Linked DNA regions of Homo sapiens: all the other regions are reported to be linked to region 1. Evidence: microRNA targets listed by miRTarBase, many of them from high-throughput screens and not tested one by one. Region 1 holds a microRNA gene; each other region holds the end of a gene's coding sequence.
Evidence for each region. Region 1 holds the annotated microRNA hsa-miR-6881-3p (AUCCUCUUUCGUCCUUCCCACU, at 5,121-5,142, shown strand). A microRNA usually pairs through its seed, bases 2 to 8, with sites in the 3' UTR of a target mRNA and lowers its output. Matches are read on the target gene's strand: a 7mer-m8 pairs with bases 2 to 8, a 7mer-A1 pairs with bases 2 to 7 and ends in A, and an 8mer does both.

Region 1 (7,106 bases):
TGTCCGTGTGCATGTAGAAGTTGTGTGGATGTATGAGTGGGTCTGTGTCAGGGACTGTGGGAGCAGCTGTGTGTGCATGGAGCATCATGTGTCTGTGTGTGGGTAAAGGTGGCTGAGCTCCTGTGCACGTATGATGGCGTGTGAGCGTGTGTATGATGGGGTGTGTGTGTGTGTGTGTGTGTGTTTTGCCTGTGTGAATGTGCTGTGCCACGTGTGTGGGTGTGTGAGTCAGTAAATGTGTGTCTGAGTCCGTCTGCTCTGTGGGGACCTGGCACTCTCACCTGCCCTGACCCTGGGCACTGCTGGCCCTGGGCTCTGGATCAGCCAGGCCTGCTTGCTGGAGTCTCATCTGGAGACCTGCCCTGAGTCCTGGGGCACCCCCGGCAGGTCCTGGCCCCTCACAGCCTGCCTTCCTCCTCTGGGCCCAGGTGTTGATATTGCTGGCAGTGGTTTCCTGGGGTGTGTGGGGAAGCCCGGGCAGGTGCTGAGGGGCCTCTTCTCCCCTCTACCCTTCCAGGGGGACCAGGGTGGGGAAAGTTCACTGTCAGTCTCCAAGTGGAACACTTTTCTGAAAGCCATGCTGGTATGCAGTGATGCTGCCACCAACAAGAACTTCAACAGGCTGCAAGACGTCTTCCTGCTCCCTGACCCCAGCGGCCAGTGGAGGGACACCAGGGTCTATGGTGTTTTCTCCAACCCCTGGTGAGTGGCCCTTGTCCTGGGGCCGGGGCTGGCATTGGTTCAGTGTCCAGTAGGGACAGGAGGCCTTGGGCCCTGCTGAGGGCCTCCCTGGTGTGGCAGGAGCAGGGGCTGCAGGCTCAAGAGGCTGGGCTGTTGCTGGGTGTGGGGTGGGGGGACAGCCAGTGCGATGTATGTACTGTTGTGTGAGTGAGTCTGCACTCATGGGTGTGTGTGCATGCCCTATATGCACACTCATGACTGCACTTGTGCCTGTGTGTCCCACCACCTGCTTGTGCCGAGAGTGGACACTGGGCCCAGGAGGAAGCTGCTGAAGCATCTCTCGGGGAGCTGGGTGCTATTACACCTGCTCAGGCACTGCCTGAGCCCGATAATTCACACTTCTTAATCACTCTCATTGATTGAACACACGGCAGGCGGAAGTGTTGGGTGTGTGTGGGGAGAGTTAGGGATAGAGTGGAGGAAGCCAAGACCCTGCTCTGTGGCTCCTGGGTGAGTGGGGTCCCCCAGGCTGGGAAGGGGTTGGGGGTCTGGCCTCCTGGGGCATCAGCACCCCACAGCCTGTGCCCAGGGAGGGCTAGAGAACTGCTCAGCCTATGATGGGGTTCCTCCTGCCTTGGGGTTGGGTAGAGCAGATGGCCTCTAGACTCAGTGATTCTGTAACAGGATACAAGTTTGTGGTTTTAAATTGCAGCACAAAGAAATTAGGCTGAACTCCTCTCCTTCCTCCTCTCCATCCCTCCCCATTTTCAGTGGTGGTTGGCAACTCAGTGCCAGGCACAAGGCTGGCCTGGGTGAGTGGAGGTGGATGGGTGGGTTCTGGGCCCCCCATTGAGCTGGTCTCCATGTCACTGCAGGAACTACTCAGCCGTCTGTGTGTATTCCCTCGGTGACATTGACAAGGTCTTCCGTACCTCCTCACTCAAGGGCTACCACTCAAGCCTTCCCAACCCGCGGCCTGGCAAGGTGAGCGTGACACCAGCCGTGGCCCAGGCCCAGCCCTCCTTCTGCCTCACCTCCCACCACCCCACTGACCTGGGCCTGCTCTCCTTGCCCAGTGCCTCCCAGACCAGCAGCCGATACCCACAGAGACCTTCCAGGTGGCTGACCGTCACCCAGAGGTGGCGCAGAGGGTGGAGCCCATGGGGCCTCTGAAGACGCCATTGTTCCACTCTAAATACCACTACCAGAAAGTGGCCGTCCACCGCATGCAAGCCAGCCACGGGGAGACCTTTCATGTGCTTTACCTAACTACAGGTGAGAGGCTACCCCGGGACCCTCAGTTTGCTTTGTAAAAACGGGCATGAAAGGTGTAAGGAATAATGTAGTTAACATCTGGTTGGATCTTTACATGTGGAAGGAATAATTGAGTGACTGGAGTTGTCAGGGGTTAATGTGTGTGGGTGTGGAAGAGTCAGGCAGGGAGAGCTTCCTGGAGGAGGTAGGGGCAAGAGGGAAAGGGGGATGGGAGAAAAGCAAGCACTGGGATTTGGAGGCGGAAATCTGGAGAGTCTGAGCAAAGCCAGGTGCACCTTTGGTCCAGATGTCTGACTCAGGGAAGAAGATGGTAGGAAGAGACGTGGCAAATGAGGAGGAGGGGCCTGAACCACAGGGATACTGGCCTCTGCCAGGCAGAATGAGGGAGTCAGGCCCTGCGCCTGTCTTTGGGATTGTGCAGGTGAGAGGAAACATTTGAGGAGTTGATGGGGCACAAATTAGGTATGAGGAAGGAGTTCCAGGGGGCAGAACCTTTGCCATCTCACAGAGGACAGGGGCAGCTTCTCTTCTTCCCTGGAGTAGGCCCTGCTGGGGGAAGCTGGGTGGAATGCCGTGGGAGATGCTCCTGCTTTCTGGAAAGCCACAGGACACGGAGGAGCCAGTCCTGAGTTGGGTTTGTCGCAGCTTCCCATGCCAGCTGCCTTCCTTGAGACTGGAAAGGGCCTCTAGCACCCCTGGGGCCATTCAATTCAGGCCCAGGCGCCCAACCTCAGTTGTTCACATTCCCCATGTGATCTCCTGTTGCTGCTTCACCTTGGAACTGTCTCGGCTTTGGTGACCTTGTAGGAAACTGGAACCCCAGCACCATTGTTTGGCTCCTGGAAGCCTTGGGGAGAGGAATTTCCCACAGGGCAGGGCCTGGGTCCTGATTCCCTGCCTCTTTACTCCCTATTCATCCCGGCTACACCCTTGGGCCCCCATCCTTGCTTGGCTCCAGTAGTGGCTGGCACAGCTGTTGTGGTCAGCCAGGGATGGCAGGGCACTGGGGAGCAGAAGAGGAGAGGTCACACAGTGCGGAACTGGGAGCAGGAGCTAGGACAAGGAAGGCTGGACTTGGGCCATGGATTCCCTTCCTGCAGACTTGGGAGGTGAGCACACTTGAGTGATTAGAGAAGGTGTCTTCGTTCTAAGGGCAGTGGAGGAGGCACCATTTTGGAGCCTGCATCATTCGTATTTGGGCTAGACTGAAAAATAGAGCTTTCTAAGTCCTCTGCAGAGAATGGGAGGCTCTCACAACTGGGAGAAGTATTGGCTCTTTTCCTGAGAATTTTGCCAAGGGTATGCTGTTACTGGGGCTGGTTTGGAAGGAGGTATAGGGCAGTATGTCTGTGAAGGCAGTGGCTGGGGTGGGGCCTTATCAGGCCCAAGGAGCATCTGGCCACATCTCAGAGTCCACAGATGAGGATCACGGATGTGTAGAGGAAACATCCTAGGCAGGCAATCATCTGACTGCTTTTTTGGGGCAGGTGATGCCCTGGGAAATTGGGAGGGAGGGAGAGAGGGAGGTAGGCTATTCTAGAAACTGGGAGAGCAGGTGAGGTAGGATTGGGAGGACCAGGGGTCAGGGTGCCCATTGGTCCCTAATTGTGAACGGAGAGAGCATTGGTCTAGGAGGCAGGCAGCTCGGTTATAAGACCTTGGGAACTCTTGATTTAGAATCCAAGATCCTTTTTAGATCTAAGATTTTATAAAATTAAGATATCCCCTAAGATCAAATGCAACGTGGAGTCCTGAATTGGATCCTAGAACAGAAGAAGGACATTTGTGGAAAAACTAGTGAAATCCAAATAAAGTCTGTAGTTTTGTTAATAGTAATGCACCAATGTCAGTTGCCTAGTTGTGACAAATATACCGTGGTTATGTAAGATGGTAACATTAGGGGGAACTGGAGAAGGGTAGATTGGAGCTCTCTGTACTATCTTTGCAACTTTTCTGGGAATCTAAAATTACTCCAAAATAAAAAAAAAATGTATTTAAAGTAAATATATTCCCTAAGAGTCCAGGAGGCAGGGGAGTTGTAGAAGCAGCTGAGTGGTTGGGCTCTGACAGATTTGGGTTCCAACTCGGTCTCTGCTGCTCACCAGCTGTGTGACCTTGAGCAAGTGGCTTAGCCTTTCTGAGCCTGATTTCCTTATCTGTGGAGTGGGGAAGATGACAGCCACCTCGCAGGGCTGTGGAGGGTTAAACGAGGTGATGCATGGACAGCAGCCGCACTGACCTTGCTGGTGTGGGGCTCCTGCTTCTGTTCTTCCCGTGCAGCCTTGGGAATGTTGGAGGCCGTATCCAGGGACCCCTGGGCCTCCTGGGATGGCCTCTCTGGATCAGCCTTGGAAGGTTCCAGGCTGCCCTTAGGCTCCCACATTCTTCCCCAGTCACGCTCTCCTCGCCCTGCCCACACCAGTCCTGTGACCCTTGCCTGAGTTGTGACTTCCCACCCCTCCCCGGCCTAGAGGAAAGCTGCCTGGCCCCTCAGTGGGACTCCCGCCCACTGACCCTCTGTCCACCATACACAGACAGGGGCACTATCCACAAGGTGGTGGAACCGGGGGAGCAGGAGCACAGCTTCGCCTTCAACATCATGGAGATCCAGCCCTTCCGCCGCGCGGCTGCCATCCAGACCATGTCGCTGGATGCTGAGCGGGTGAGCCTTCCCCCACTGCGTCCCATGGGCTATGCAGTGACTGCAGCTGAGGACAGGGCTCCTTTGCATGTGATTTGTGTGTTCTTTTAAGAGCTTCTAGGCCTTAGGGCCTGGACATTTAGGACTGAGTGTGGGGTGGGGCCCGGGCCTGACCCAATCCTGCTGTCCTTCCAGAGGAAGCTGTATGTGAGCTCCCAGTGGGAGGTGAGCCAGGTGCCCCTGGACCTGTGTGAGGTCTATGGCGGGGGCTGCCACGGTTGCCTCATGTCCCGAGACCCCTACTGCGGCTGGGACCAAGGCCGCTGCATCTCCATCTACAGCTCCGAACGGTACGTTGGCCGGGATCCCTCGTCCCTGGGAGAAGGTGGGCATGGGAGAGGGGGAGGTGTTGTCGGGCTGGAGGAGGTGGCGGTACTGGGCCTTTCTTGTGGGACCCTCCTCTCTGCTGGAACTGCACTGGGGTAAGGATAGGAGGGTCAGGTCTGCAGCCTTGTATCTGCTGATCCTCTTTCGTCCTTCCCACTCCAGGTCAGTGCTGCAATCCATTAATCCAGCCGAGCCACACAAGGAGTGTCCCAACCCCAAACCAGGTACCTGATCTGGCCCTGCTGGCGGCTGTGGCCCAATGAGTGGGGTACTGCCCTGCCCTGATTGTCCTGGTCTGAGGGAGACATGGCCTTGTCCTGTGGGCCCCAGGTACATGGGGCAGGATACAGTCCTGCAGAGGGAGCCCTCTTGGTGGGATGAGCGAGACGGGAGAAAAAAGGAGGACGCTGAGGGCTGGGTTCCCCACGTTCATTCAGAAGCCTTGTCCTGGGATCCCAGTCCGTGGGGAGGACACATCCTCCCCTGGGAGCTCTTTGTCCCTCCTCACGGCTGCTTCCCCACTGCCTCCCCAGACAAGGCCCCACTGCAGAAGGTTTCCCTGGCCCCAAACTCTCGCTACTACCTGAGCTGCCCCATGGAATCCCGCCACGCCACCTACTCATGGCGCCACAAGGAGAACGTGGAGCAGAGCTGCGAACCTGGTCACCAGAGCCCCAACTGCATCCTGTTCATCGAGAACCTCACGGCGCAGCAGTACGGCCACTACTTCTGCGAGGCCCAGGAGGGCTCCTACTTCCGCGAGGCTCAGCACTGGCAGCTGCTGCCCGAGGACGGCATCATGGCCGAGCACCTGCTGGGTCATGCCTGTGCCCTGGCCGCCTCCCTCTGGCTGGGGGTGCTGCCCACACTCACTCTTGGCTTGCTGGTCCACTAGGGCCTCCCGAGGCTGGGCATGCCTCAGGCTTCTGCAGCCCAGGGCACTAGAACGTCTCACACTCAGAGCCGGCTGGCCCGGGAGCTCCTTGCCTGCCACTTCTTCCAGGGGACAGAATAACCCAGTGGAGGATGCCAGGCCTGGAGACGTCCAGCCGCAGGCGGCTGCTGGGCCCCAGGTGGCGCACGGATGGTGAGGGGCTGAGAATGAGGGCACCGACTGTGAAGCTGGGGCATCGATGACCCAAGACTTTATCTTCTGGAAAATATTTTTCAGACTCCTCAAACTTGACTAAATGCAGCGATGCTCCCAGCCCAAGAGCCCATGGGTCGGGGAGTGGGTTTGGATAGGAGAGCTGGGACTCCATCTCGACCCTGGGGCTGAGGCCTGAGTCCTTCTGGACTCTTGGTACCCACATTGCCTCCTTCCCCTCCCTCTCTCATGGCTGGGTGGCTGGTGTTCCTGAAGACCCAGGGCTACCCTCTGTCCAGCCCTGTCCTCTGCAGCTCCCTCTCTGGTCCTGGGTCCCACAGGACAGCCGCCTTGCATGTTTATTGAAGGATGTTTGCTTTCCGGACGGAAGGACGGAAAAAGCTCTATTTTTATGTTAGGCTTATTTCATGTATAGCTACTTCCGACTGCATCTGTATGAAAATACCAAAACTACATGCGGGGGGGTGGGTGGGAAAGGGAGGGGCTGGGAAGGGATGGGTTGGGGAGCGGGGGTGATCCCAGTCTGAGGCTCCCGGGGATGAGATAAGAGTCTGGAGACGGGCATGGGTTCTTGGAGAGTGGCATGAGCTGGCTCTGCCCTGGGAGCCCGGTCTGAGGGGGACGTTGTTGGAGCCCCTAGTGTTGGGGGTGGTTATGGGAGGGGGTGGGGTGAGGGAAACGGGAGAATGAAGGAGAAAACTGAGCCCTAGTTTCACCGTGTTCATTTGGAAGGACGAGCCGGGTCCTCAGGGGGAGGTTCCAGGACTCTGCCCTTGGCGTTGAGGGTTGGGGGGCGGGGGGCCTCCTCCCTTCCTCTCAGCCCCCTTCCCCAGGGGCTGTGCTTCCATGCTCCTAGCCTCCCACCTTCGCTCAGGACATGTTATAACTTAGGCTAAACTGTGAAAATTCCGGTGGGGATGGCCTGGGCCGAGCTCTCCAGGCAGGCGGCCCTGCCCCCAGCCCTGTCCATCCATTTCAGGGGGGAGCTGGGCCCTTCTCCGGCTGTGTCTGGCC
Region 2 (7,116 bases), not on the chromosome of region 1:
TGTTTCAAGAGATATATACATTGCAAGGGAAAACACAATGTCTGGGGAACAATGGAATTGCCAAATGCAAAGCAAAATAGTACAGCCAAGATTGTGCGGGCCAGGGGTCAGCAAACTTGTTCATAAAGGACCAGATAGTAAGTATTTTACTTGTAGTCATATGGTCTCTGTTGCAAGTACCCAATTCTGCTGTCATAACACAAAAGGAGCATGGGTAATATGTAAACCATTGGGAGCAGCTGTTCCAATAAAACGACTTGCAAATATAGGCTCACACAGTTTGCCACCCCCTGGTATAGGCTAACATCGTGTATATTTAGAAGAAGGATGGAGACAGTCTATATATCCATCTGTGGTTCTTGGCCAGTGTTTCGAGTTTTAAGATTCTCATACCTGAGCATTGACTGACTATGGCATAATTTTTTCTGCCCACTCTTCTCTTGCAGAAGCTAAACCAGCCCCAGAAATATTTGAAAATGAAGTCATGGCCCTGCTGAGAGACTTTGCTAAAAACAAAAACAAAGAGCAGAGACTGCGTGCCCCAGATCTTGAGTACCTCTTTGAAAAGCCACGTTGAGCTGTGCTCCACGGCCTGGCATGGGGGTTCAGTCTGTGGATGGTAACTACTTATGATGGACGTTAGCCTTGCTTCCGGCTTCTTAGATGCCCAGCTGCCCTACCCCAGACCACTGGTCCTGCCTCAAGTGATGGACATAACCCTCTCCTAGGACATACATGTAAATGCACAATGTGACTCATTCTCATACTTTTTTGTTCAGCTCTGAGCCTCAAAAGTGATTTGTCAGCAGCGCTGGCATGCAGGCTTTGCCTGGCTGCTATCTCTAGAGGCAAGTCTGCCACGAGAGGGCACTGCAGGCGAAGCAGTTGTGCTTGCTCATTGCCTCAGCCCAAGTGTACTCAAAGAAAAGAGGCAGCCAGCTGTGCGTGCTGTATGGAAAGCCTCCCGCCCTCCCTGCAGCTCCCCGCCCTCAGTGGCCCAGGGCTTTGTTGAAGTGGAACTCCCCACTTCCAACCTGGTATGGCTCCTTCTGCGAAGGGAAGCTGATCCCAGCCTCCTGAGCTGAATCCTTCAAAGGCACAGCAGGCAGAATGAGGGCCACAGGCAGGAGTGGTGTGGGCACACTGCTTAGGAGTCAACATCTTCATCATTGGGCTTTCTTTAAAACGTGCACTTTGTAATTTGAAAGAGAATTATTAAAGCATACTGAAAAAAGGAAATTTACAATTTCCCAGCCCTCACAATTAATTTTAATTTTGTCTATTTTCATATAACCCATAGTCATGTTTATAGAGTTTTACAAGTTCACAATTACAGGTTTTATTTTCATGTAGCACTATAGAAAACTTTCCCCCTCATTCCTACAGTCTTCACAATTAGTTGACTAAATAATAATACATAAGAAATAATATATTAGAATGAATTAGTTAGAAGTGTTTTTAAAAGCTCTAGGGCTGTGTGACTTCTGTGTTGCTAGTGGTGCCCTCCCTGGAGGGGTTTTGCCCTCAGAGCTGTAATCTAGGCAGTAGAATCAGTCACCCAGACTGGACCAGGTGCATCTAAAGGTGTTGACTAGAAGAAGGTCGGCCAGATTTGATGAGCAGGTGGTTGGTGATTATAGGAGCCGCACACAGGGACTACACACGCACATGTTTCCAGCATTGTTGAGCTCCAGGGTTCCTACAGAGCCACCTCATGGTTCCTGCCTGCTCTTCAGTATCCCTGGTGGCTCAGGAGGGAAGGGAAGAGATCTAGCCTTTACGTAATCACAGTTAAGCCTCACAGCACTCTAGACTAGTGGTGTTACCTGTATTTTATACATAAGAAAGTGGGCTCAGAGAGAGGAAGTAATTTGTCCAAGGTCAGGTAGCTATTGAGTCGAAAAAGCAGAATTTAGTATAGCTCAGTCTGCCTCCAAAGCTCTTGAACTTTCTACTAGAACACACTGCCTTACTGCTGGAAATTTAATAGAAGTCTCTGTTTGGGAAAGCTGTGGCAAATAGATGTGACAGTTCTGAGACATGACCTCTGTGTTACATGGTGGGTAGGAATCTGCCAGGTGCTTCGCCAAGTGAGTAGATCTGAACTTGATCACCCAGTGAAGCTTCTGTGAGGAAGCAGCGCAGTGCACTGGTTACACATTTAAATCCTGGCTCTGCTGCTTACCTGCTGGATACATGAATTGACCTGAGCCTCAGTTGCCTCATCTATAAAATGGGGATGACAATGCTTCCTGTCTCAGCTAGTTGATGAGATGAAACACACAAAGCTCTTACATGGTAACTTGCACAGTATGTACTCTAGATATGAATGTCAGCATTTAGTCATAGCCTCAGTCTGAGACTTAAAACCTGTCCCTAACACAAATTGCCTGGCATATCAATGAGGTCACCATAGCTACATCCAGGGTTTCTCATCTGCAGGTCAGAAAGCTGAGCCTATTAATAGAACCACAGAATGTCTTACCTCCCAGTGAAGACGAGAGAGAAAACAGACCCTGGTGACAAGACCTTTGATGGAAAAATCTAGCACTCTCCCCTAAGCAAGGAATGGAAGTGAGACTCGCAGAAGCAGGGCAGGCGAGGAAGGAGACGTCTCCCTGGGAGCTTGCTGAAGACTCTGGCTATTCTCTCGGGCTGCATTTATGTACCCTGGGGAGAATGTTAAGCAGGCCGGGAGTTTATATATAGACATAGATCTGGACTGTACGAAGTGCACATGAATTGGGCGGTGACTTACCCATTTATCCTTTGCACGTTATGCAACAAACCCCAGTAGCCAAGGATGTAGTTGGAACTTTTCTCCCCCTCGGGTTTGATCCCTTCTTATCCTGATTTTGTCTTATTTAACACAATGTTCAATTGCTGCCGCTTTCACCTGGGAATGGCATGCTTCTAGAGGAATTGTTTTCCTCCCAGGCTGCTGGATTGTGTCATCTTTGAAAGTGAAGGATCTTGCTAAGTTCACCTGCTCAGTTGTCAGGCCCAGGGATGCTATGTAAACAGTTTTTCCCTTTATTAGGCATTAAGTAAAACTAGGCCGGCCACAGTGCATTTTTTTAGGAATTAATAAACATATAGCAAGGGCCAGCAGCCCCCGAAGGATCGCTAATGCACAGAAGCTAGACTCATTCCTTTTACTTTGACACATCCCTGCTTACTGACCTCATTCAGAGCCTGTGTGGGGCATATGAGCGTCTGGCCCTGTCCTGACCGACTCAAGTGGTCTTGTGAGTCCTGCACAGGCTCTCCACGTGACACCTTAAATTGGGTCAGGAAAGGCTGTTCTCTTTCCATCGTTTCCTTTTAATCATCCTAAGTCTTAAAAATCCATAAGCCAAACACCTTGTGCTGGAGCTTTCTGTGCCTTAGACAGAGTGTGTCTTTTGGGGGTCATTGTAGAAGCACTCTTACTGGCTTTGAGTGTTATCTGGAGGTCATCTGGTATGTCTTCTGCTCCAGCCAGGGTGGCACCAATACAGACCTGGTTCATATTTTTAAACATCACTGGGAAAAGATTCCGATGGGATAGTTGGGGTCTCTCATTTATCCTTCAGTCCATCTGCAGCTATTTGTGGCTAGACAAAGAGAGGAAGGTTTAATGATAAGCTAAACAGCTGTAGATGGCAAGCAGGTCTGTGAGATTTTTGAGCTGACAGCCCCACTTAATAGTATGTTCTGTAGTATCTGAGGACAGTGGACTCACCATCCCGCAGCTATCAAGTTGATGACACTGATCAGTACCCAGTGAAACTAACTCCTGACACCTCAGTTTCCCAGTGAACCCTCTGGGAATGAGGAGTGGTGTTCGAATTTTCCTGTCAGGGAAGATGGCATTGGTGGGATAGGTGGCTTCAGGCCAGCAGTACTTTTTGTGGCTTAAGAAACAAGTGTTGTTAGCAGTTTGTTAGAGGGGTGGTAGAAAGTTTAAGCTATCCAGGACAACATCAGTCTTTAAAGGAGATGGGTAGATTTATCATCACCTATAGCTGCAAAAGAAGAGTTAAAAGCCTTTTGTTGGATCCCGGATCTCAGACCCCAGATACTCCTTTTTTTTTTTTTTTTTTTGAGACAGGGTCTCACTGTCACCCAGGCTGGAGTGCAGTGGCAGGATCTCCCCTCACTGCAAGCTCTGCCTGGGTTCAAGCGATTCCATGCCTCAGCCACCCTAGTAGCTGGGATTACAGGTGCACGCTACCATGCCTGGCCAATTTTTGTGTTTTTAGTAGAGACGGAGTTTCACCATGTTGGACAGACTGGTCTCGAACTACAGGCCTCATGTGATCCGCCTGCCTCAGCCTCCCAAAGTGCCAAATATTCCTTTCAAAAAGGAGAATGTTTCTTTAAGAAGGGGATTGTATAATCTGTCATGAGATTAGAGTATAAAAGGAAAAAAGTGGGGGAGGGTGGATATATCATTTTCTGTAACAACACATCACAGCATGGAACTTTCAGCAAGTGAGAACGTTAAGATGTACATTCTGTTTCTCAGTGGATTCAGGTGATTTGGCTAATATTTAATAAAATATTCTCCTCTGGTGATGCCCTGGAACACGTGTTTAGGGGAAATAGAACAGAGTAGTTAAGGGGAGCTGTTTAGGAATCAGGCCTAACCTAGAATCCTGGAGCTCCCATTGATTAGCTGGGTGACCTGAAACACATTATTTAACCTCTCCAAGCTTCTGTTTCTCATCTGTGGAAAGGAAAGAAAAGGAACCCGACCTCACAGTGTGGGTATAAGGACTGAATAAAGTCCTGCCCCTGGAGAGCTTAGTACAGCCCCTGTACCCTCAGTAATACTTGGTAGTAACATCTAATAGTTCGGCTTGTTGTGTACCCAGTGCTGCTGAGTGCTTTACGTCATTTCATCCCACAATACCGTGAGATAGGTGCAATGATTATTCCCGTCTTAGAGATGAGGAAAGTGAGGCTCGGTGAGATAAAGTTGCTAGCTCAAAGTCACAGATAGGAAGCGGTTGGGCTAGGGTTTGAAGCCAGGCAGTGGGCCCCAGGGCCCTTGCACTTAGGTACCATGTGCTACCCTGCCTCAAAACATGAAAAGCATCATCATCTCTCTTCTAACGACCTCTCATCCTGAATCTTGTCTTGGTCCATGGCAGACTGCTGGTGTGGACAACTTTGCACAGATTGGGCCACCCTCTCTTGGTTCCCTATAGGACCTGGGGACCATGACTCATATGTCACAGCCTCAGCAGCTCTAGACTTAACCATCTGAGCCTTCCAAGGAGGACATGTGCAGCCTAGCTCTCCAGGTGAGAGCTTGGAGTTCAGAGACTTCCTGTGGATTTGGAGGGGAGCCAGAGGGAAGGGCTCAAGTTCTACCCAGCTTCAAGCGTTTTCTCCTTACCCTGAGCAGCAGAGATGAGCTCTTATGCTTTCTGGGCCGTCCCATCACTGGCTGTCCTTTGTATCCAAGTGGGAGGCTGCCTCTGAGAGTTGGATGTGCCTGTTAGGAAGCCCACATAGAACTCATTCCAGGGTCCCAAGATGAGTTGCACAACCTCTATCGCACCCACTGGCTCCAGTGCCTTTGCTGACAAACTAGTGCTGGTTCCTCCTAAGGCCCAAGGCTCTGAGGCCAGGCCCTCTGTGAGCAGGACCCTCACTCACCTGTTTCTCTGGGCTCCCATCTCAGCGGAGTCATGCAGAAGTGAGAAGGTTTTCATAGATGGTGTATTAGATACTGTTTGCAGCAGAAGCAGAAACAGGTAGTTGTCTTGGTCCAAATAGGAGAAGTGATGCCTAGAAATCTAACTGGAGACCGGGTGCAGTGGCCCATGCCTGTAATCCCAGCACTTTGGGAGTCCAAGGTGAGTGGATCATCTGAGGTCAGGCGTTCAAGATCAGCCTGGCCAACATGGTGAAACCCCGTCTCTACTAAAAATACAAAAAAAATTAGCCGGGTGTGGTGGCACGTGCCTGTAATCCCAGCTACTAAGGAGGCTGAGGCAGGAGAAGCACTAGAACCCGAGAGGTGGAGGTTGCAGTGAGCCGAGATCGCGCCATTGCACTCCAGCCTGGGCAACGAGTGAAACTGCGTCTCAAAAAAAAAAAAAAAAGAGAAAGCTAATTGGAAAAACACTGTCATGGTCTTCACTAAATGCTGGGGATAGAGAAGAATGCATCTTGTCTGTCCTTGAGGAGCTCACTGTTCTTGGTGCTTTATTTCATTGATTGCCAAGCAGAAGTTGTCTGCACTAGCATAGCACAATGTGCTACACCCAGTGCCAGACACAGAAGACGCGGAGATCAATGAGATGGAGCTCGTGCCGCAGAGGTCCTCTGAAGAAGGGATAAGTGAATGGAAGGCACGAAAGGATCTGTCTATGGGCCTCAGGCACTGACCCTGTGAGAGCAGGCAGCAGGACATCTAGCCTTGTATGCCAGGTCTATCCTCACAGCAGGGATGAGGACACCAGGCCACTGAGCTCTGAGACACCTACTTTTAATATAGAAATAACTTCTTTTGTTCTGAATTCACCCTCAGCAATCAGTTACGATTGTCTGGTAGATTTCCTTTTTATAGAGACAGGGTCTCACTCTGCCACCCAGGCTGGGGTGCAGTGGTGTGATTGACTCTTGGGCTCGAGGCATTCTCCTGTCTCAGCCTCCTGAGAAGCTGGGACTACAGGCGCATGCCACCACACCCAGCTAATTTTTTAAAAAAAGTTTATTTTGGGCCAGGTGCAGTGGCTCACGCCTGTAATCCCAGCACTTTGGGAGGCCGGGGTGGGCAGATCAAGAGGTCAGTAGTTCGAACCAGCCTGGACAACATGGTGAAACCCCCGTCTTTACTAAAGATACAAAAAATTAGCCGGGCGTGGTGGCACGTGCCTGTAATCCCAGCTACTCAGGAGGCTGAGGCAGGAGAATCCCTTGAACCCGGGAGGCGGGGGTTGTAGTGAGCCGAGATCATACCATTGCACTCCAGCCTGGGCGAGAGACTCCGTCTCAAAAAAAAAAAAAAAAGTTTTGTAGAGACAGGGTCTTGCTGTGTTGCCCAGACTGGTCTGGAACTCCTGGCTTCAAGCGATCCTCTCACCTCAGCCTCCCAAAGCACTGGGATTACAGGCATGA
Region 3 (7,116 bases), not on the chromosome of region 1:
AACTAGTCTCAAACTCCTCACCTCAGGCAATCCGCCCACCTCGGCCTCCCAAAATGCTGGGATTACAGGCGTGAGCCACCACGCCCAGCCTTCCACAATCTTGATATAACTGGCTGGGCCATAGTAGACCCTCACTGACCAAGGCCCATGGTCATGTTGTTTAGACCTTGACTATAGCATGACAAAAATGGTTCCTTACTGTGAAACAATAGCTTGGCTCCAAAAGGGATCCCAAGGCAGGTTTTTTTTTGCATTCTAACAGAATTTACTCATTTGCTTATGGCATTACTCGTTGATTTCTCACCAAAAGCATTGTCAGTCTGTCTATTACACTTCGTTTTATGATGAGAACTGGTGAGGGAAACAGTGGGTGAATTGCCCAGCTACAAAGGCTCTCTCCACCCTGCACTTTCTCTAGTCAGTGTGCTTCATCGCCACCACCTCTGTCACATTCCAATTCTGCCCAATGCAGGACCACACCCTCTTCCCACGTAAGTCATCAAGCAAAGCCTGTGACTCTCTCCATTCAGAGCACCCCTTAGACAGATTCTGAGTTGAGTAGGGCTCCCCTTAGGTCTGCCCTGCTTGTTGTGGACTGTCTAAAGGGCACTGCTGTAAAGAGTTACTTCCACTGAACATGTCCTTTCTTTCCCCCACAGACATAACCAGTGCGGTGCAATCCAAGCGAAGAAAATCCAAGTAAACAAGCAGGACTGCGACTTGATACTTGGAAATGTGTGTGACTTTTACAAAGAGCAATTTTGAGCTGTGACTTTTTTAAATCAATTTCTGTACAGTTAGTAATTTTAATAATGTGGCCCTTTTCCTAGTCCCTGCAACCTGTTTCATAAAGTGCAATGGGGAAAGCAGGACTGTTGAGCCCTTTTGGTGTTGCGAGTTGAAGTTCAAGGTTTCTAAAATGTTGTCTTGTATTGAAAGGAGCTAATGCCATTATAAATGTTACTAGTTTTCACATTTCCTAAGCAGCCTAGAGTACAGGGTGAGCATTTTTAGATCTCCTAATGATGTATTGTGCCGTGGAAGTACTGTGTGTGAATAGCAGTAGTGGGGGCAAAAGCAATCTTCTCATTTGGAAATGTTGTAAATAATTTTATTATATAGTGTTTTGGATGTATTTGTTGTAGAAATGGACCAGTGAATAAAGAGAATCTAAGGATTTGTACAATGTGAAATAACGTGTTAAATAAATGTCATTGTCATAGAACATAAAGTTATGTTATTGGTAAGGGATTTTTGGGTGATCAGCTCTTTCTTTGGACCTTAACTAAGCAGACACAGCCTTGTGGATGGAATTCCTATCTAGTCCTCATTGAACCTGAGATGCCCGCCTGGCAAGTTGAGGAAAATGTACATACTTGCTCCCTCACCTCATTCTTGGCTTTGAAGAAACTAGCCCTGTTCAGCACTGTGCCAGGTATTTTGATATATATTGCTCAGATTTCTTTTGATGCAAATAACAAAACCAACTTAGAGATCAATGGCCACCCAGGATTTTCTAGGGACAGGAAGCTGTCAGCAGCTGAGATGGCACTTTTTCACCATGTCACATATCTGCTCCTCCATTTGCATGGTGGATTGCTCCAAAACAATTGTGCTGACATCTCCTCCTTGCAGGAGGTAAGCCCAAACTGGCCTGTAAGATTGTGCCAGCATCAAGAATCTAGTCCAGGGCCGGGCATGGTGGCTTACACCTGTAATCCCAGCACTTTGGAGGGCCTAGGCGGGTGGATCACCTGAGGTTGGGAGTCCGAGACCAGCCTGACCAACATGGAGAAACCCTGTCTCTACTAAAAATACAAAATTAGCTGGGCATGGTGGCACGTGTAATCCCAGCTACTGGGGAGGCTGAGGCAGGAGAATCGCTAGAACCCAGTAGGCGGAGGTTGCGGTGAGCCGAGATTGCGCTATTGCACTCCAGCCTGGGCAATGAGTGAAACTCCGTCTCAAAAAAAAAAAAATCTAGTCCAGTTTAGGTCAGGTTTCCACCTTTAGTTCTGTGGTTAGACAGAGCAGCTCCCAAATTAAAGGGGTCATTTTGTGCTGTATATTTCAGAGATGTCCACTACATTTCACTCTGGCTGTCCTTCTTCAAAATGTGTGTAGTCTCCAAAGCCAGCTGCTTCTGCCCCACCCTACCTGCAACTTGAGGAGACTCTGATGCTTGGGGCCCTGGCCTTGTCTCAGCCTGGGCTTCAGCCTTCTGCTGCATCTCCCCCAGGATTAGACTTCATCCTTTCCCCTCCAGTGGCTACTTGCCCTTGCTCTAACCCAGTGCCTGAGACCACAAGGATGAGTTTGGTCATTCTGTCATGCTGTTATTCTCATCTCTATTTCAGCTGTCTTCATGTATGTGTCTTGCATTGTAAGGATCCTCTAACAGTAGTCATTTATGAGTCAGACCCCATTGTCTGGCTCTGTTCCCAGTAAGCTTATCTCCCCTCTTCCTCTCCCATATGACACACACACCAGAACCAAGGCCAGCTTTATCATAATATCCTATGCCACTACTGTGCTTAAGATTACAAGATGCTTCTCATACTTAAGCTCAACTCAGGCAGAAAGGATCATGTGCTTTAAATATATTTTTATTTGTTTTTCTTTATATTAATTTTTTTCTCCCATAGAGGAATAGCATTACAGTCTAACAATCAGAATTCTGTTACACACATACACAGGCATGCCACATGACCCAGTTGAGGTGGTTGTCTCCTTGAGTCTGTTGACACGTCACATGGTCAAAGTCTCCTCATTTCAGCCAGTCTCAACACAAAACACCCAACAGGGATGCACTCAACTTGTTGGTTCCATGTGGAACTAGGTGGCAGGGCGAGAGGGAAAGTAGTAGAAGGGGGCTATGGTGTGTCTGCATTCAGTCCCCTCACATAAAGCCACATGGATCTAGGGGGGTATCCAAGAGCTCTGGTGGGGTCCGTGTTGCACCTAAGACATTATAGGTCAGAGCAAGTTGCTCAGAGGGTTCCAGGCAGGGGGCTGGGGAGCAGGCATACTCTAAAACAGCACCAAACTGCATTCATACACGGTGCCCTGCTGGGGCTAGACTGGCAAAGGCTGGAAAGACACCCAGCTTGAAGGAACCACTCAGACTTACTGGGGAATAACTGGAAGTCACTGTTTGATGTAACTGGGACTCACTCTAGAAACGGGTCCCTCTGACAGTTTTGGCAAAGTGCTGGTAGTACTGACATTAATACTCACAAATTGATACAAACTCCTCTAGGGCCTCAGAAAACATCAATCAAAACAGACTCTCTAACCCCCTCCTAAGGTTGCATAGGACTTTGAACTCTGGTTCCCTCATGTATTCAAGTTCTGTGGTTTAAAAAAAAATCCTGAAGCATGCTCAAGGTGAAAGGCACGTACACAGTCAATACAGTATGACAAGGGCTGATGCTTCAGGAGTCAGACTAGCAGGAGACTGAGTAGTGTTGGTTCTTAGAAATCTATACACAATTAAAATATTGCCACACTCAAATGCTACAGAATCTATAGGAAAGGTACAAAAAAATATGAGCCTTGCAACCAAGCAGGTGAGAGATTGGGTTCTAGAATACAGGAGCCTCCAGAAATATAGGTAAACAAAAGGCCTTTTAAAATTTGAGCCAAATGCCCTATAACTTAAACTCTTCCCCCACCAGAAGGATCATGGGCACCACACAGGACTGAGCCTAGGTCCCAGCTGGCAGTGAGGAGTAGGCAAGAAGGGTTGGAGGGAGATTCAGCTCTTGGAGGTGCCGAAGACCCTAGGCTGGCTGTGAAGTGCCCAAGTGGTAGCTGGAAGAATAAAAGCAACTAGGTTCTGAAGGAGAACTTGGGAGAGGAGCAAGGCTGTCAACTACTGGGGCCCTAGTGGACTGGCGTGGGAGCTTTGATCCGTTTTTAGTGTTAATTTGGCTTATTCCCTGGAATAGGAGACCCCATCAGGTCTTCCTCTGTCCTCATCCCAGCATCCATGGGGATACCCCATCCCTTCCCCACATACCCCCCATGAGGCCTGGGGCTATAGGGTCAGGGAGGGCAGCTGCCTTTGCCCTCATGGGAATGCAGAGTTTTCTCCAAGCTTCAGCTTGGCTGTGAGGCCTGGAAACCTAGAGTTGGGGTGAGGGGAGGACCTATGTTCATAGGTACCAAGAAGTCTTAAAAGTTCCTAGGAAGAGTGAGCACACACTAGAAAAGGACGGCTAGAAAGAGGAAATGGGAAGCAACTCAGGGCATCCCAAGAGGCTGTTGCTGGTGTCTGAGCCCAAAATTCAGTCTCACCACAAGAAGGGGAGGCTGGTGGCCCCTGCCCCTTCTGTCTCCCCCAGGGATTCAGGTTCCCTCTTCCAGGTATTTACTGGAGGAGAAGGGGAGGGGGATCATAGGGTACCCATTTCTCCCCAGCAACCTAGAAAGAAAGAGAGGCCTGTGGGAGAAAATGAAAAGAGGCCCCCTGAAGGCCCTGAACCTGGATAGGAACAATTTGCAGATTGAGACAGTGGGAGTCCTGGACTCCTACTCAGGACTGCTGGCTAGCCATACTGAGCAGGGTGTGAAATACAAGGCCAGAGGCAAGGTGAAGACTGAGCTGTCAGCCTTGGGATGGCTTCACCCCATGGTGTGTCCTCCAGCATCACTGCTCTGCACGCTGACCTAGGGTGTGTGCCCTTTCCCTGCCTAGAAGCCCTGTGGCCTGCATGTCTCCTAAGCTAGTTCTAGCACCTTGGGCTTGTGAACAGACGGCCAGGATGGTAGGGCCTTGCCCAGCTTCTACTCGGGTGACGTGTTGGGGGTAGAGTGGCAAGGTACTAACTAAGCCCTTCAGATTTCAGGGCCTGCAGAAGGGTGGATTATAGAAAAGGGAAGTGGGGGCAGACTCCAGGCTTCAGCCTGGGAGCAGGGTTTGGCCTCTCTGAGCAAGCACAGTGCACACTCCCTTGGTGCCCTGCTCCCTGCAGCTTCTCAACGTGTCTGTCCTGTCCGCATCTCCAATAGGCTGCCTCGTTCCCTAGATTCCCTCCATCTTCTCCCTCTAACTCACGTCTCACAGTCCTCTTCTACATACTGTACCTTTCCAGGCCTAAGCAGCTCCACAGAGTACCGCCCCCAAGGCAGAAGGAAGGGGAGACTAAAAGCAAAACCCTGAGCCCTTACTGGAGGGCAATGACAGCAGCCCAGGCTGCACAGGCTCTACCTGGTCAGAGCTGGGCTCAGGGTCCCCACCATTTGGTAGGGAATTACTGGGAATGAAGAATAAGGGAACAGGAGTGAGTGTAATGCCAACCATGGGATAGTGTGAGACATGTAAGGTGGGAGTTGAAGGTGGGGAATGAGCCAGATCAGGGACTGGAAGAAGCTTTCAGAAATAGGGGCAGGCCAGAGGTAGAGGACTGGAGGGCAAGGGTGAAAGGGAGAGACAGGGATGGGGACCAGAGAAGAAAGGATGGAGGGGCCAGGAGTAGGGGGCATGGATGATTAGATGCTGGGTATGGGGACCAGGAGTGAGGGTGAAGGGTGAATGGGTTCAGAGGCAGATTAGAGGATCAGAGATGGGGAAATTGAGGGTGTCGGGGAAGGAACGGCTATCACCCAACCTCACACGCTTTAAGAAGGGAGGTTTCGGTGTCCAGCCCGAGGAGTCGGAGGAGCCCGACAGGGATCGGGATCGGCAAGGGGTTCGTGGCGCGGCCGGTGGACGCTCAGTAGTTGAACTGGCGCTGGCACGGCTGGTAGATGAAGCTGCTCTGGTTCTTGGACCGGCGCGGACGGCTCTCGCGGGCTCGGTTCTGCCGCTGCACCGCCTTGGCGCTCAGCGCGTGGCGCTCTGCCCGCTGCCGGGCCCGCTGCAGCCGCCGCACCTGGCCCGCCTTCTCCAGCAGCGCCGCCCGCGCTGGGAGAGGAGCGGCGTGGCGCGCGGCCCGCGGCTCGCGGCGGGCGGGCGTCAATTCCCTGTGAGGACAGAGCCAGGCTCGGTCAAGCCGGGTAAGCTGGGCGGGGGGTCTAGAGGGCGCTGCCATCTCCCACCCTTGCTTCGGCTCAGTTCTGTGTCTGTTCAGATTGGGGTGCCCGACGCCCTTCTTGTGGGTACCAACCCGGAGGTGCCTCCTCGGTTCTAGCCCTTAACAGGTAAACTGGACCTCGGGGGAGACTGGACCCCCACCCCCTATTCCACCCTTGCCTTTCTGTTTAAGTCCCACTCCCTAGGCGCTCCAGCCACGCTCCTCAAGCCTCCAACCCCGGCCCCAGCCTCTTGGCCACGCCCCTCCCTCTCAAGCCCCGCCCCTCCGTCCTCAGGCCCGCTTCTAGCCTCGCCCGGAGGCCCACCGGCCCCCCACTTTGTCTCAAAGGCAACCCTCCCAAGGCCGCTACCCCCTCGAGCGCGGGGCGGGCTCCTGGCCCCACTACCCCAGCCTCCTAGCCTGGACCCTGGCCTCCAAGATCCGTCTCCCTGGGCCTCCAGGCTCCGCCCCCGGCCCGCTCACCCTTCGCTGAGGTCGCCGTCAGGCAGGGCCGCGTCCGGGAGCGGGGAAGGGGACCCGGGCTCTAGCACTATGGTGCTGCCGGTGACGTAAACGGACATGCTGGGGTGCTCGATGAGGAGGTCCTCCAGGGGACTGCTCTGGAGGCGGGCGGGACCGAGTCCAGGCCCCTCTGCCGTAAAACAGGCGGGAGGGGTAACAAACCAGCTCTCGTCCATCAAGGAGGGCGCGGGCGGAGGGCGGCCCGCGGGGGCAGGGGCGGCCCCGGGGCTGGGTGGAGCCGCGTAGCTGTCTACGGGGCGCGGGATGGGAGCCGTGCAGAGGAGGGGAGCAGCGAGGAGGCACACACACACACACACACACACACCGGACAAGGGGGCGGGGAGAGAAAGGGCATCGTTAGTCAGACCCGCAGCCCGTCCGCAGCGCCCCGGGGCACCCACGGGCCAGGCGTCTCGCCCTGCTGCCCTAGGGGACCTGACGTGCGGGCCTCTCCTGGGCCGCCAGGAGAGAGCCCCGGCTTTCATGGGAAGGGGCCCCGTGACCCCACCTCCAGTAGGCTTGGGGGACTCCCCCGTCCCCCAGCAGCGCCCTTCCCCTCCGCTGCTAGGCCATCTGC
Region 4 (7,116 bases), not on the chromosome of region 1:
CCTCTGCTTTCGTCTACTTTGTTCCTGCAATGCCCGTGTCCCTTTGTGGAACATCCTTGGCCATCTCAGAGCAGCTTGTGGGGAACTGACCCGAGCTTGGCCCTGCAATTCTGAGGGTGCTGGAGCCCTGGGAGCTGAGGGCAGTATCTGACCAGAAGGCTGAGTTCAGTCTCTAAGGGAAAGCGAAGACCGGGTCATAGCCTGCCTGACCTCAACCCCAGGCTCCAGGAGTTGCTGGTCCGAGTTCCTATGAACGTGGCCAATGGGCCAATACCTGGACAGATGTGGGGGCAGGGCCTGCAGGGGCAGTAAGAGAGGGGCAGGCCTGGGACAGGACCTAGTCAACACAGCACATGCTGAGCCCCAGGACAAGACCTAGGGCCACTTGGCTTCCCTCTTCTGGGACAGGACTGCTCTAGGCAATGGAGTGGCAAAAGCGCGCCAGGGAGGGAGAGCAGCTGGCCAAAGGACAGACCTGGGCTCAGCCCCCTCTGCCCTCTGTTGAGTCTCCTGAGTCCCTTTGGAGTCCCTCTCTTGCTCCCATGCAGACAACTGGAAGCAGGAGCTGACAAAATTCATCAGCCCCGACCAGCTGCCCGTGGAGTTTGGGGGGACCATGACTGACCCCGATGGCAACCCCAAGTGCCTGACCAAGGTACAGGGTGCCCAGAGGATGGGGAAGGAGGGGAGAAGCTGTGACCTAGTGCCCACACACCCCCTTCACCCACAGATCAACTACGGGGGTGAGGTGCCCAAGAGCTACTACCTGTGCAAGCAGGTGAGGCTGCAGTATGAGCACACGAGGTCCGTGGGCCGCGGCTCCTCCCTGCAGGTGGAGAACGAGATCCTGTTCCCGGGCTGTGTGCTCAGGTAGGGATGGCAGCCACTCTACACCTGGGCACATCTGGGAGGGGCCTGGAGCCCAGGCAGGGGGTCGCCAATGGGGCTCTATCCACTGCAGGTGGCAGTTTGCTTCAGATGGTGGGGACATTGGCTTTGGGGTTTTCCTGAAGACCAAGATGGGGGAGCGGCAGAGGGCTAGGGAGATGACAGAGGTGCTGCCCAGCCAGCGCTACAATGCCCACATGGTGCCTGAAGATGGGATTCTCACCTGCCTCCAGGCCGGCAGCTGTAAGAGTTGGCAGGGATGGCTCTACCTGGAGCTGGGGGCTAGGGGGAGGGTGCTACAATGTGCATCCAGGTCCTACCAGGTGAGGGCCCTTGGTTCTGGTGGGCACAGTGTGAGGCTGGCTCTGGGCTCTCAATTGTGGCAATGGTTCCCTGGTCTGGGTACCCACGCAGAGATTTACCACCATGGAAGTCAGAGTCCCAGGTGGGGCATCTTGTCTGAATGTCTGTCCCTCACTGCAGATGTCCTGAGGTTTTACAACACCTACAGCCTGGTTCATTCTAAACGCATCAGCTACACCGTGGAGGTACTGCTCCCAGACCAAACCTTCATGGAGAAGATGGAGAAATTCTAGGTGAACCTCATGGTCCCCACACCCTCCTCTTTGATCTCTGAATCCACAATGAGTTCACAGCCTTCCCTGGCCAGACCCTGTTCAACCTCTCAGGAACAGGGATTCTACAACAGCAGGTCACAGCCTATGCATCACAGCTGGCCCACTCCTCAGGAACGGCTGGGACAGTGTCCTAGTGGTGGCCCGATGGTCACAGCAAAGCAACACAGACACTCCATCCCCACTATGACCTGCTGTGACCTCAAGCTCAGCAAAAACCCCAGGCTTTTTTCTATCAACCAATACCAAGAAATAAGTTACTCTTCTAAAATATAGTATTAGGCCAGGCATGGTGGCTCATACCTGTAATCCCAGCACTTTGGGAAGCCAAGGCGGGCAGATCATTTGAGGTCAGGAGTTCGAGACCAGCCTGGCCAACATGGTGAAACCCTCATCTCAACTAAAAATACAAAAATTAGCCAGGTGTGATGGTGCCTGCTTGTAATTCCAGCTACTTGGGAGGCTGAGGCAGGAGAGTCGCCTGAACTTGGTAGGCAGAGGTTGCAGTGAGCCGAAATCATGCCACTGCACTCCAGTCTGGGTGACAGAGTGAGACTCTGTCTCAAAAAAATAAAATAAAATAGTATTAATAGGAAATTTGAAATATAGTATAGCTGACAGATCAGGAAATAATTACCATTGAAAAGATAGTTTATTACTCACAGTTCCCAAGAGGAGGGGCCGCTGTGCCATAGGGGGAAGAGGAGGGGTCCCCAGGGAGGCATCAGGGCCGAACATGACGCACATGAGACAGAAAAACTCTGGACAAAGCAACTTTACTTTTATGATGGTTTCTGCAGGAAGGAACTGGTGAGGCAGGGTAAGCAGGCTTGAGATTTGCTAGTTTGAATAATTTCAGCAGGCTCCGTGGAATAAGGGCTGTCACTAGCTGTCTGGTATCTTGCCCTGGGGTGATTACAGCAGGTGGATAGTGGCCTGGAGTGTGAGAATCTGATAAAGGAGGTAGTTGGAATATGGTTTATATCAGTTGGTTTGCATTCGAAAAGTGCATTTGTGGGCAAGTTGCTGTATCTCTAGGAGAGGCAGGCCCTCCAGGATTAGCAAAACCTCAGATGTTAAAGCATGCAGAAAATAAAAGACATGGTTCAAATAGTTCCCTAACAAGCAGTTGTGCAATGCTGCTCTGAATGGAAATCCAACCTCACAGTTTCCCATCTAGAAAGAATTTTAAACTCTCTATTCTGTCTTCCACATACACGTTCCCTCCCACTGTTATAGCATCTGAGAATCTGCTTGAGCTCTGGATCTTCATCCAATCTCCTGATTAAGATTTCAAACTGGCCAGGTGCAGTGGCTCACACCTGTAATCCCAGCACTTTGGGAGGCTGAGGCATGTGGATTGCTCGAGGCCAGGAGTTTGAGACCAGCCTGGACAACATGGCGAAACCCCGTCTCTACGAAACATACACAAATTAGTTGGGTGTGGTGGCGGCGAGTGCCTGCAGTCCCAGCTACTTGGGAGGCTGAGGTGGGAGAATCTGTGGAACCCAGGAGGCGGAGGTTGCAGTGAGTTGAGATTGCACCACTGCACTCCAGCCTGGGAAACAGAGCAAGACCCTGTCTTAAAAAAAAAAAATTCAGACTGAGCCTCACAGTGGGACACTAGGTCGGTGTCAGCCCACAGTCCTACTAGAGTGCTGTCCTGCGATCAGGCCTCTTTGGGTCTGGCTATGCTGTCAGCTGAGATTCTGCCCAGGATCCTGTCACTCACATGTTGTCCCAGCTTGTTCTCAATGTGGCAGCCCCAAATGACAGCCAAAGTTCTTCCCTAATTGCCTACTTTACAGGAATCCTGTCCAAAAATGGAAACACGGGCATTCAGCAGCCCTTGCTCTCCCTCAGCCCCTCCCCTGACAGCCACTGATCTGTTCTTCATCCCTACACTTTTGATTTTTTCCAGAGTGTCATATAAATGGAATCGTGCAATATTTAGCCTTTTGATTCTGGCTTTCTTTAGTCAGCATAATGCCTCTGAGATTCATTCACTTTGTTGCATGTGTTAATATTTAGTTGCTTTTCGTTGCTGAGTAATATACCACTGTATGGATGGACCACACTGTGTTTATCCCTTCCCCTGTTAAAGGCTGGTTGAGTCGCTTCCAGTTTGGGGGCGATTATGAATAAAGCTGTTGTAAGCATTCGTGTACAGGTTTTTTGTGATCCTAAATTTTCACTTCTCCAGGGTATCAATACCCAGGAGGAGAATTCCTGCTGGGACCTATGGGAAGGGTACATTTAATGTCACGGGAAACGGACAACGTGTTTTGCACAGAAGTTGCACCATTTTCCCAAAAGCAGCATGTAAGCATCCCAGTTGCTTCCCATCCTTGCCTGGTGCTGTTAGTTATCCTGATATTAACTATTCGAATAGGCCTGTGGTTAATGTGGTTTTTATTTATTTATTTATTTATTTTATTTTATTTTTTTGAGATGGAGTTTCACTCTTGTTGCCCAGGCTAGAGTGCAATGGCATGATCTTGGCTCACTGTAACCTCCACCTCCCGGGTTCAAACAATTCTCCTGCCTCAGCCTCCCAAGTAGCTGGGATTACAGGTGCACACCACCACACCGGCTAATTTTTGTATTTTTAATAGAGACAGGGTTTCACCATGTTGGCCAGGCTGAGCTTGAACTCCTGACCTCAGGGGATCCACCCACCTCAGCCTCCCAAAGTGCTGGGATTACAGGCATGAGCCACCATGCCCGGCCAATGTGGTTTTAATTTACATTGCTTCAATGACTAGTAGTGCTGAGCATCTTTTCATGAACATGAAAAAGGCATGGTCGGCTGGGCATAGTGGCTCACACCTGTAATTTCAGCTCTCTGGGAGGTTGAGGTGGGAGGATCACTTGAGCCCAGGAGTTCTCTGTCTCTGTAAAAAGAAAGAAAAAGGAAAGGAAAGGGGAAGGGGAAGAAGGGGAGAAAGGAAGAAGGAAGGAAAGGAAAGAAGGAAGGGAAAGAAAAGGAAGAAGAAGGAGGAGGAGGAGAAGAGGAAGAAAAAGAAGGAGGAGGAGGAGAGGGAGGGAGAGAGAGAGAGAAAGAAAGAGAGAAAGAAAGGAAAAGAAAAAGAAGGAAGGAAAGAAAGAAAAAGGAAAGAAAAGAGAAAGAAGGAAAGAAAGAAGGAAGGGAGGAAAGGAAGAAAGAAAGAAAAGAAAGAAAAAGAAAGAGAAAGAAAAAGAAAAGGCAGGCATGGTGTGTGAGATGAGACAGGCTCGAGTTCAAGTGCTGTTTCTAGCACTCACTGCCTGGCTTTGGCCAGTGATCAGACCTCTCTGAGCCTCCATCTCCTCATTGGCAAATGGGTGAGATAGCGTCTGCCTCATAGAGTGGTTGCTATAGGATAAAGGAGATTCCGCAGGCACCAGCAAGCCTCCAGGGGAAGGCAGCTGCTATTGGGAGCTGATAACTAGTGTTGGAGCCCACCAGGGAGCCACGCTGCACTGTCCCACAAGCTTTCTCCATGCATCTTGGTCCCATCTTCCTGTGCTTGTCCTGGCTGCCCTACAGGCCCCTGTTAGGTGCCCCCAGTTCTGATCTCCAGGTGCACTCTGGGCCTAATGCCCTCCCTGCATCTCCTCCCATCTGGCTGCCAGCTCCACCTGCAGTGTGGGCCAGCCCTGCCCCTGGTCTCTTGCATGTCGACCTCAGAGACTCCCTTATGCCTGCCCCAGAATTCAACCGTCCCACCTGCCCTGTTTCTGGACTTCTCTTAATTCACCTGATAGTTCCAAGGGTGCCTGCCTGCTCTTTCCAGGCCATGTAAGGCTGGCTCCTCATCTCACCCTGCAGAGACCTCTTGTCCAGATTCAGGGCATGTGTCTGTTCTCTGTGACCTTTGTGTAGCCACTGGTTCCATACCTATTGGCTTCCACTGCTGTTAGCTTGTGAACTTATATGACTTTCCATGGACTCTTCCTTTTTTTATTTTTATTTTTTAGAGACAGGGCCTCGTTCTGTCACCCAGGCTGGAGTTTAGTAGCATGATCATAGCTCACTGCAGCCTTGAACCCCTGGGCTCGAGTGATCTTCCCACCTCAGCCTGCCATGTAGCTGGGACTACAGGTGCACACCACCATGCCCAGTTAATTTTTTAATTTTTTTTAGAGACAGGGTCTCACTCGGTTGCCCAGGCTGGTTTCTAACTCCTGGCCTCAAGTGATCCTCCTGCCTCAGTCTCCCAAAGTAGTCCACACCCAGCCAGACTATTCCCTTTGAATGGTGTGTGCACATGGGAGAATCACTGGTGTAATACTAAATCAATGGTTTAGTATCCATCAAAGTTCAATAAGCACTGTGGAGAGGTGACACAGATGGCAGCCGCCCATGTGGGCCCTGGGCATTGGGTAAACCATCTTCAGCTCTCAGTATACACATTCCATGGCTGGGCACGACCTTGGCCATGGTGATGATAACTCTAGCAGCCGGGAAGGCAGCCCCTTGTGCATACTCCAGCTTGGTGGTGGCCCCCACCAAAGGGAGGGGGAGGCCTGGGTCTCTGCTCTGGAAGAACAGATGGGCCCTGGATTAGGAGCTAGGTGGGCTGCTGGCCTGAAAAGCCTCTTGGTAGCTGAAGCCTCGGTGGTTCACAGAGGGCCTCCTGACATTTACCATCTAGAGTTCTCCACTAACAACCTCCAGCTCTGGGCTGGTGCACAGCATGGAGTAGCTATTGCATAACGAATGATTTAATGAATGAGTGAATGAATGAATGAGTAATGTCAAAGTCCTCTGGCTCAGCTGAGCATGAGGCTCTGATGAATTGCGGGACACTCTGCTAAGGGATTCGTCTTCTGTACCACACCTCCCAGGGCCTCCTGTCTGACCCACAGCCCCTTAAGCCTTGGCCTCAGGCTGGCTGCCAAGGACAGCCACTGGGAGCCGGACCCTCATGTCCTATGGCTGGTGCTCAGCAGGCAGCAATTTCCTGGGCCAGCCTAACCACCACAGCAGGACTTTGTGGCTGAGCCTCCAACAGTTCAGGCTTCAGGGAACTCCTAGTCCCCTTTCCAAGGGTAGGGGGAGACTGGTGTGGCTCTCCCATCGCTGGGAGGATCACGCTGCAGCTCCTGCCTCATCAGGTGTTTTCCATCCAGCTCTTCATCCTGCCTCCCCCCACCCTGCTCCTGAAATTAATCTTGCCCCCTGAGGGCCCCTTCCTTCCAGTCTTTCTGTACCTTGTCACTGAGTGTGTCCTGTCAAAAGGAGCAGGCAGGCTGGGTGTGGTGGCTTATGCCTGTAATCCCAGCACTTTGGGAGGCTGAGGCGGGTGGATCACCTGAGGTCAGCAGTTCGAGATCAGCCTGGCCAACATGATGAAACCAATTATCTACTAAAAAATACAAAAAATTAGCCAGGTGTGGTGGCGTGCACCTATAATCCCAGCTACTTGGGAGGCTGAGGCAGGAGAATTGCTTGAATGTGGGAGGTGGAGGTTGCAGTGAGCCAAGATCACGTCGCTGCACTCCAGCCTGGGCAGAGCGAGACTCTGTCTCAAAAAAAAAAAAAAAAAAAAAAAAAGAAGCAGGCTGAGCCCCTTGGGGTCTGTGTGCTGATATTGTCCCAACAGGGTGA

Region 2: miRTarBase lists SDHAF2 as a target of hsa-miR-6881-3p. The part of its 3' UTR that is shown has no 7-base or 8-base seed match.
Region 3: the mRNA of TP53INP2 is a reported target of hsa-miR-6881-3p. Seed matches in the 3' UTR shown: 7mer-m8 at 5,069-5,075 and 7mer-A1 at 3,967-3,973.
Region 4: the mRNA of SEC14L6 is a reported target of hsa-miR-6881-3p. Seed matches in the 3' UTR shown: 7mer-m8 at 2,194-2,200 and 7mer-m8 at 2,223-2,229.

Annotation. Positions count from the first base shown.
Region 1 is chr15:74,409,397-74,416,502 of GRCh38, reverse strand. MIR6881 (microRNA 6881) reads left to right here and starts at 5,071; the gene lies at 5,071-5,146. SEMA7A (semaphorin 7A (JohnMiltonHagen blood group)) reads left to right here. Exons shown (of 14, transcript NM_003612.5): 8 at 518-702; 9 at 1,557-1,665; 10 at 1,758-1,956; 11 at 4,491-4,618; 12 at 4,793-4,947; 13 at 5,147-5,208; 14 at 5,518-7,106. The coding sequence ends at 5,879. RefSeq lists enhancers at 3,853-4,353, 4,354-4,854, 6,860-7,106, 6,763-7,106.
Region 2 is chr11:61,445,495-61,452,610 of GRCh38, forward strand. It overlaps SDHAF2 (succinate dehydrogenase complex assembly factor 2), which reads left to right. Exons shown (of 4, transcript NM_017841.4): 4 at 447-1,239. The coding sequence ends at 577. Among named protein-coding and RNA genes, the nearest start is that of SDHAF2, 19 kb to the left of the region's middle. RefSeq lists an enhancer at 848-1,595.
Region 3 is chr20:34,708,909-34,716,024 of GRCh38, reverse strand. It overlaps TP53INP2 (tumor protein p53 inducible nuclear protein 2), which reads right to left. Exons shown (of 5, transcript NM_021202.3): 4 at 6,501-6,789; 5 at 2,589-5,967. The coding sequence ends at 5,718. It overlaps NCOA6 (nuclear receptor coactivator 6), which reads left to right. Exons shown (of 15, transcript NM_014071.5): 15 at 660-1,251. The coding sequence ends at 703. Among named protein-coding and RNA genes, the nearest start is that of TP53INP2, 8.1 kb to the right of the region's middle. RefSeq lists silencers at 5,827-5,996, 6,247-6,506, 6,547-7,106.
Region 4 is chr22:30,519,365-30,526,480 of GRCh38, reverse strand. It overlaps SEC14L6 (SEC14 like lipid binding 6), which reads left to right. Exons shown (of 12, transcript NM_001193336.4): 9 at 549-655; 10 at 731-870; 11 at 962-1,131; 12 at 1,372-3,682. The coding sequence ends at 1,484. Among named protein-coding and RNA genes, the nearest start is that of SEC14L4, 17 kb to the right of the region's middle.